2 linked regions of the Homo sapiens genome follow. The protein of the gene in region 2 purifies or fractionates together with the protein of the main gene of each other region. This does not show direct contact. Each region holds a gene or a part of one and is shown on either strand. Other genes may lie near its edges.

The links.
Region 1: the proteins of SINHCAF (region 2) and SAP130 purify together in Homo sapiens (affinity purification with mass spectrometry; 4 studies listed by BioGRID and IntAct, with this or other methods). This does not show direct contact.

The regions. Positions count from the first base shown.
Region 1 is NC_000002.12:127,982,906-127,986,559, reverse strand, and holds part of SAP130 (histone deacetylase complex subunit SAP130), read left to right. Parts: intron 1-3,654. UniProt on the Homo sapiens protein: Acts as a transcriptional repressor. May function in the assembly and/or enzymatic activity of the mSin3A corepressor complex or in mediating interactions between the complex and other regulatory complexes.
Region 2 is NC_000012.12:31,298,553-31,302,206, reverse strand, and holds part of SINHCAF (SIN3-HDAC complex-associated factor), read left to right. Parts: intron 1-3,654. UniProt on the Homo sapiens protein: Subunit of the Sin3 deacetylase complex (Sin3/HDAC), this subunit is important for the repression of genes encoding components of the TGF-beta signaling pathway.

The DNA of each region.
Region 1 (3,654 bases), on a different chromosome or scaffold from region 2:
AAGCATCTGTTGCATACTGCTTTAATTCTCTCTAGTTCTGGAACTTCAATCATAGAACTTTTAAAGTAGTTTATAAGTAACTCTTGGGCTTGTGTAGGTAGTTACCTTAACTCATACTATAAACTTCATTCAGCATGAATCGTTGCTGTTGAAACGGGAAAAGTTCCCTTGTCCCCCTCGCAGGGCGTGCAACAGTGGGAGTGGCTCGCTTCTTCATTGCCCTGCTACTCAAACCTCTAGGGGAGCATACAGACAGGCAGGCTGTGTCGCTCCAACCCTACAGCAGTGTCTAGAGGTGAATGTTTACAGCTGAAACCCCAGTGGGCATGTGTTACAGAGTGCTCTTTTAGTTTAGCCATCCATAGATGGCTTGCATTAACCAGCTCAATTAGACCCCTGCCTTATGGCAAGGACAGAGAGCTTTCTGTATCCCAGGGTTCTTGCCTTGGTGTACTGGAAGAATGGGATCACACGTGGGCTTGGAGAATGAGTGTAGGGTTTTACTGAGTAGAAGTAGCTCTCAGCAGATGGGGGAAGCCAGAAGGGAGATGGAGCGGCCCCAGCTCTCTTGACTGCCCTGGCCAAACTGCGTCGTTCTGCTGGTCGGGGGCCTGCTGGCATGCCAGCGTCTGTCATGTGCTCTTCCACCGGCATGCTCCCCTTGCTGTCCTCTCGCCGTCCAGCTGCTTGTGTCTTTTGCCAATGCGTTCCTCTTGACGTCCAGCCACTTGTGTGCCTGTCTGCTAGGGTCTCGGAGGTTTTTACAGGCACAGGATCAGGGCGTAGCAGGCCAGGGTGGTCTGGGGGAAATGCAACATTTGGGCAGGAAAACAAAAATGCCTGTCCTCACCTAGATCCGTGGGCACAGGCTGGGGGTGGAGCCCTCACCAGGGACCCGCCCCTTCCCAGCACTTCCCTACTCCCCTTCTATGTCACTGTGGGCAAACAAATTCTGAAGTGTAGTAAGGGTCATATTTGGTAGCAGATAGTGTTTTGTGTTGCCATGTAAGCTTCTCAGTTGGTGGATCATAGGCAGGAAGGTATGTGCTGTGCTGTTTGAGTTAAACATTCTGGAGGTGGGAGATGAGCAGACATGTTTCAGAGAGCAGAGTTTCTGTGGCTCAGCTGAGCTAATAGCATCAACATCAAAAGATTAAAGCAAGTGCAAACTTAAATTGCTGGGACTAGGGTCCATGCAGGGTTTTTATTTGCACAGAGCTGTGCATATACCAGAGTCCCTATCTTTGCTGTTTATGAATACTTTGTACTTTTTTAAAGGATAAGTCAGTCCATGACAAAGTTACCTTATTAGTAAAAACACAAGGCAAAGCTTGTGGTTAAGATGACAGATTGATTACACACATCTAAAATCTTTCTGTCTCATAACCCTATATAACTTTTTTTCAAAAAAGTTGTAAACACACAAGGATGGGGAGAACAGGAGAGGACACAGTAGCAACTGAAGCTGGGAAGCAGACCATCACGCGATGGCGTCCTGGCTCTGAGAAAGCTAAATGTGAAGCTTGCGTAGGGGAAAGTTGAGAACCATCCTCTTTTAAAATTGGAAAATCTTCAAAAGGACCAACAACAGGCAAATCCTGGGGGCGAAGGAAGGGGCTCTGTCCTTTAAGGAGGATAAGTTAAAACCTTTGAGTTTGAAAAGTGTTAAAGTTAGAGCCCAGAATCCCATTTTCTACCTATGCCATGTGGTGTACTGCCCCTTCCCGACTTTAGCAGGAGCCTGAAAGTTCAAACTCTGCAGATGGTCCGCTAGGGTCACCCAGCACTATAGAGGTCATGAGTATTTTACCAGAAAGAGATTGTGACTCACCGTGTGTGTGTGGAGTGCTGAACACTTCCCAGTCCACTCCCTGCTTTCAGCTGATAGAACTCTGGCAGGTGAACTTGATTCTAGATAGAAAATGAGAAGAGGACTCTACTTTCCTTCTGGGGAGTCTATCCAGCCCAAGGGGAAGCTCTAAAGATACTGACACTAGGGCTTCCTTAAGGACAGGGTTAGATTACCCTACAGTGGACCTCATAGTAGACATGCCCTTCCAAAGCTCAGAGCTCCCAGCCAGCATTTCAGTCCCTCTCCCCGACTCTTAATCATGAACATACAACCAAAGATAGGCACATATCTGAGGGGACCTCTAACGGTGGAAGACAGAAACCACAATAAATACATGCCCAAAGCACCTTGGAAGATGTAGAGGCCTGGCAGGGAGAATAAAACACAAAACAAATGAGCAAGGATAAGCAAACAGTATCCGTGATGCCTTCAGAAAGACAAAAGAAAAGGTTGCATCCACAAAACAGTAACACAGTGCTATGCAAAAAGAACATTCAGAGGAGAAAAGAACCGGTCCTGAAATAAGATAGCAGAAATTGAAAGATCAGTAGAAGAGTTGGAAGATAAAATTGAAGAAATCTCAAACGTGGAACAAAAAGACAAGAAAATTGGAGAAAACGATAGGAGAAAATTTAAAACAACAATAAAAAGAACCAGGTCAGGAAATCCAGCCTCCAGGTAATGGGTTTCAACAAGAGAGATCAGAGAAAAGGAACAGGGATTACAAAGTAAGGAGTTTGTTATAATATTGTAATCTCAGTTCAAAAGTTAACTGCAAATATAAAACCCAATGATTTCTATATAGTAAATTGAACTGTAAAGGTAACTTGTGTGTGATTCTGAATACATAGATAAATGTTTAAAAAAAAAAAAAAAAAAAAAAACAACAAAGTAATAGAAAATTACCAAAACTGAAAGAAATGAGTTTCCTGGTTACAGAAATGCCCTGCACAGTATTCAATGGATGCAATAAACTCAGGCCAGTATTTTGAAATTTGGCAGCACTGGAGACAAAGAGATGTGCCTGCTTCTCCCGTACTTCCTCCCAAAGACCCTTGTACTGTGCCCTCTAATTCACAGCCTGTCATCACATGACACTCCAACCTCCACCCCAGTGCCCTTGTCTCTTCTTTCTCCACGCCTTCTTGCTTTAAACCTGGGACTCAACTTGCCCTGCAGCTGTCTAAAGTGGTCCCTGCCTCTCTTCCACATCCCTACTGTCACTCAGCCTGGAGGTAGGCAGGGTGTCCTTGTCATGCCTCACTGCCATTTTCAGACCATTTCTCCTCAAAAGCACTTGATCTGTATTTAGATTTCATAAAATGTACAGTTGAAAAAGTAGTTTCACATAGCCAAGTTATTCCAGACAATAAAAAGTTTCTCAGTAACTGGATCGAGTATCCATTATAAAATTCAAATTAATTAAAATGAAATAACATTAAAAATTTTGTTCCTGAGTTGCGCTTGCCACATTTCAGTTGCTCAGTAGTACCATATGGCCTTCTTGTTGGGCAGGGCAGATCTAGAGGCGCAGAGTCAAGTTAGATTTTGCAGGTGTATCTGTATGCCTTTTGGAAGGACATGATGTCTGGCACTTTTTAGTGATAGTGGAACCCTCTCTTCACCTTTAATGATCAGAAATGATTTTCCAGCTCCCTGGCCCCTCAGGTGCTTGAATGCTTCTCCTGCCTCCACCCTCCCCACCAGTTTGGGCACTTAGCACATAAGCTCAGTGAGCCTTCCTGACCTTGTCTCTGTGCTCCCATGCCCCTAGCCCATCTTCTTTCTTCCCACCTCCCTCC
Region 2 (3,654 bases):
ATTTTTGGCTTTATCTCACAGCTTAATTTTCCTCTTCTTTCCCCAAACACATGGTTAAGGATGAGATTGTATGGGGTCTGTTCTCAGCTGTAACTATTAATCAATTAGAAAGCAGATAGTATTACCTTTCTTCCTTTAAAACATAGTGCTGAGTGATATGATGCCTATGAGAATAGAGGCAAAATTCACAGATAGTTTCATAGCTGATGGTGTCATTTGAACAAATAAGATAGATTGTACTGGAGGAATCATTTAATATTGCACAAATTTGGTACTAGGAAAGCAGTATTCTAAAGAACCACCAGATTGCTTGAAAAAACAAATCTCCAGTTTAAAATCAAGTTATGCCACGCCCACCCAGTACTTTGTTAAATATATAAAGTAACTTGGTTTCAGAGACCATTTTATGTCCTTGGTTTTGCTCTAGGGATTAAGTAGTGTTTTTTTTTTGTTGTTTTTTTAAACATTTCATGGGTTTGTAGATTTTTGGAAATAATTTCAGTTAATCTCAGGGCTTCCCAAACCTTGAAATGGTTAAACACCAACCACTGCTTAACTTGGTTGTTGTAAACAAAGCCCGAAATGAAACCCCTGTGTATTTGCTGCAGATTCCCAGGTGCCTCTTAAGTGTGAGGATAAGCTCAGAAAAGGCTTAATAGGTTTATTAAGTTGTCATCCATTAAAAGGTTCACATGCTCCTTGTGTGTTGCATAAGGACAGGTGTCTGCCACCTCATTGCATTTCTCACTGAGCATTGCCTAGGAGAGGGTAAGCCCTAGGATTTAGATCCCTCTCAGATGTTCAGGCAGAATAATTTTGTCAGGACAAAAGTAAGGTCACGGAACTATATGAAAATGGATTATGAATCCTAAGACATCAGCCTATTCTCCCCTATGTCTAAGAAGAATATTCCTCAGCTTATGACTGGAATGTCTTGCTAGGGGTGCTGGGTAAGTTTTGTGGAGGTCCCCACCAGCAGAAAAAAATCATTGAAGAGGAACACTTAATTCACAATGGCTGCTGATTAAAAAGAAAGCCTCAATATTCACCTATAACCCTAACATCCTTAACAGCTTAGCAGTGTGGTAACTGGCACAAACTATGGCGTCTTGGTCAAATCCAACCTCAGTGAAGGTAGTTCACATCCTAGAGATGAGCTGAATGCTGATAGCTTTGAGGACTTGTTTATTTGGGGGAAGGGAAAGAGATGGTGAGGGTAGAGATAGGAATCTGTCTGTCGTAATAGGATTTGGTCTGTGTATTAATGGAATGAACTGGCCTTTTTTGCTCTGCTTCTTTTGTCCTTGCTGAGAAGGGAGGCTGAAGTTTCCAAGAGTTATGGATGAAGTTGGAGAGTATTAGAGGAACTGTTCTCTGACCTTCTTGATGGTAATGCAAGCTGTTGGGCGAGTTTGGAGAAGAGCGCAGGGTGGTGTGAGGACGAGGGCCGTATTAACATTTTGCCTTAAAACAGGAATACACAAATTAAAGCAATAACTGCTACTCTGCTTTCTTGTTTCTGCAATCTTCTGTCATTTGACATTGTTTTTTCCAAAGCAACATGCGACCATTTTCTTCAGGATTTTCTTTTCAGTTATCATATGGGTTTGTTGTTGGATTGAGAAAAAAAAATCTGCCTCATTTGAGCAGGCCTCTCTAGATCTTTTCTTATGACTGTGTAGAGGGTACTTCCTCATTTTTCTTCCTCTCAAAGACATCAAATTCCCAAGCATTTAACTAAAATTATTATCAACTAAAAATGTTTTTTTTAAAACAGTTCTTAGAGGTAACTGTTTAGACTTAATTATTGAAATGCATGAAGGCCTTCTGCCTTGCCCCCATCCCACTCTTTTGCCTGCCTCTCTCACCAACAAAAACATGGCAGAGGAACAGTTTATTAACAATAGCCTGTTTGAAAGGGAAGCTTCAGTTTTTAGCTAATTATTTGCTAATAAAAGTTTTAAAAAAATTTTCTTTTAAAAGTTGTAAAACCTCTGTCTATATTTCAAAACCCCTCAATACCAAAAAAATACACATAAAAAGCCTGGATATTTGGTTCTGAATCATTTTCATTAATACTTGCTATATTATACTAACCAGAATTGGAATGGAATGGGATCAGACGAGATAATCCAAAGACAAATACAGCCATATGTCACACAAGGACGTTTCGGTCAACCACAGACTGCATATATGATGGTGGTCCCAAAAGATTATGATACCATATTTTTTTGTACCTTTTCTATATTTAGATGCACAGATTCTTACCATTGTATTACAGTTGCCCACGGCATTCAGTACCGTCACACGCTGTATAAGTTTGTTGCCTTGGAACAGTAGGCTATCCCATATAGCCTAGGGGTGTTGTAGGCTATTGCCATCTTGGTTTATGTGAGGACACTGATGTCTGCACAAGGATGCCCAATGATGCATTTCTCAGAATGTGTCCCCATTGTTAAGCAACACATGACTGTACTGAAGCTTTAGGTTTACTCATCTAAGTTTATTTCTAAAACAACTTTAAAAAGATAGTGTTCTGTGGTAATAACTCCTAAAACTATGGACACGAAAGTGATATTAATAATTTTCTTGGCCGGGCACGGTGGCTCACGCCTGTAATCCCAGCACTTTGGGAGGCCGAGACGGGTGGATCACAAGGTCAGGAGATCGAGACCATCCTGGCTAACATGCTGAAACCCTGTCTCTACTAAAAATACAAAAAGTTAGCCGGGTGTGGTGGCGGGCACCTGTAGTCCCAGCTACTAGGGAGGCTGAGGCAGGAGAATCACTTGAACCTGGGAGGCAGAGCTTGCAGTGAGCCTAGATCGCGCCACCGCACTCCAGCCTGGGTGAAAGAGTGAGACTCTGTCTCCAAAAAAAAAAAAATTTTTTTCTTTTATTGTTGCTTTATGTGATAATTTTGTGATAATTTATAGTTAGACCCTCATACATACACACATCCTCTGACTTGTCCATTGGAGTTTAGTTTCTATATTCATTGCCTTTTCATCACCTCTCTTAGTCCGGTTGTTTTGGTGAGCTGGCCCTTGATTTGGATATTCCAAATTACTTTTCCTAAGGTACAGATTTACTGCCAGCTACATATTTGCATCCAGCCCCAGAGCTGTTTTCATTCCTTCCTTGACGTTGAGATTTTTTTTTTTTTTAACAGGAGGACTGCAATTTATTTCACTCTACGTCTCTGGGACATTTGCCTCCCACTGTTACTACTCTCAGGCACAAAGCCTTGTAGAAGAGGTCCACAAACCTCTAACAACTAAGGGGCAGATCAGCGGTCAGACAACATGAGCTCGTTCTTTTTTTGTCTTAATGATAATAAGGAATTATTATTATTAAATTCTAACCTTGGATTTTTGTGAATTTTACATCTTCCCTTCAGCAGTTTCAATTCAGGGGCAAACTTGACTGCTTAGAACTTCCCATTTATCACAGAAGAAATCCCCTCTGAATTCCCATTAGGCAAAGTAGTATGGGCTGATGCATAGTGAGCTAGTTGTGTGCTTAGTATCAAATAGTATTCATGGTAAATGCTCAAAACTTCCCCAGAGGGGAATCACGTTAATGCAAATGTGCAAAATAAAAAGGTGTGTCTTAAATTTAAGGATGCATCCTTAATTGTGTACAGCTTCATTA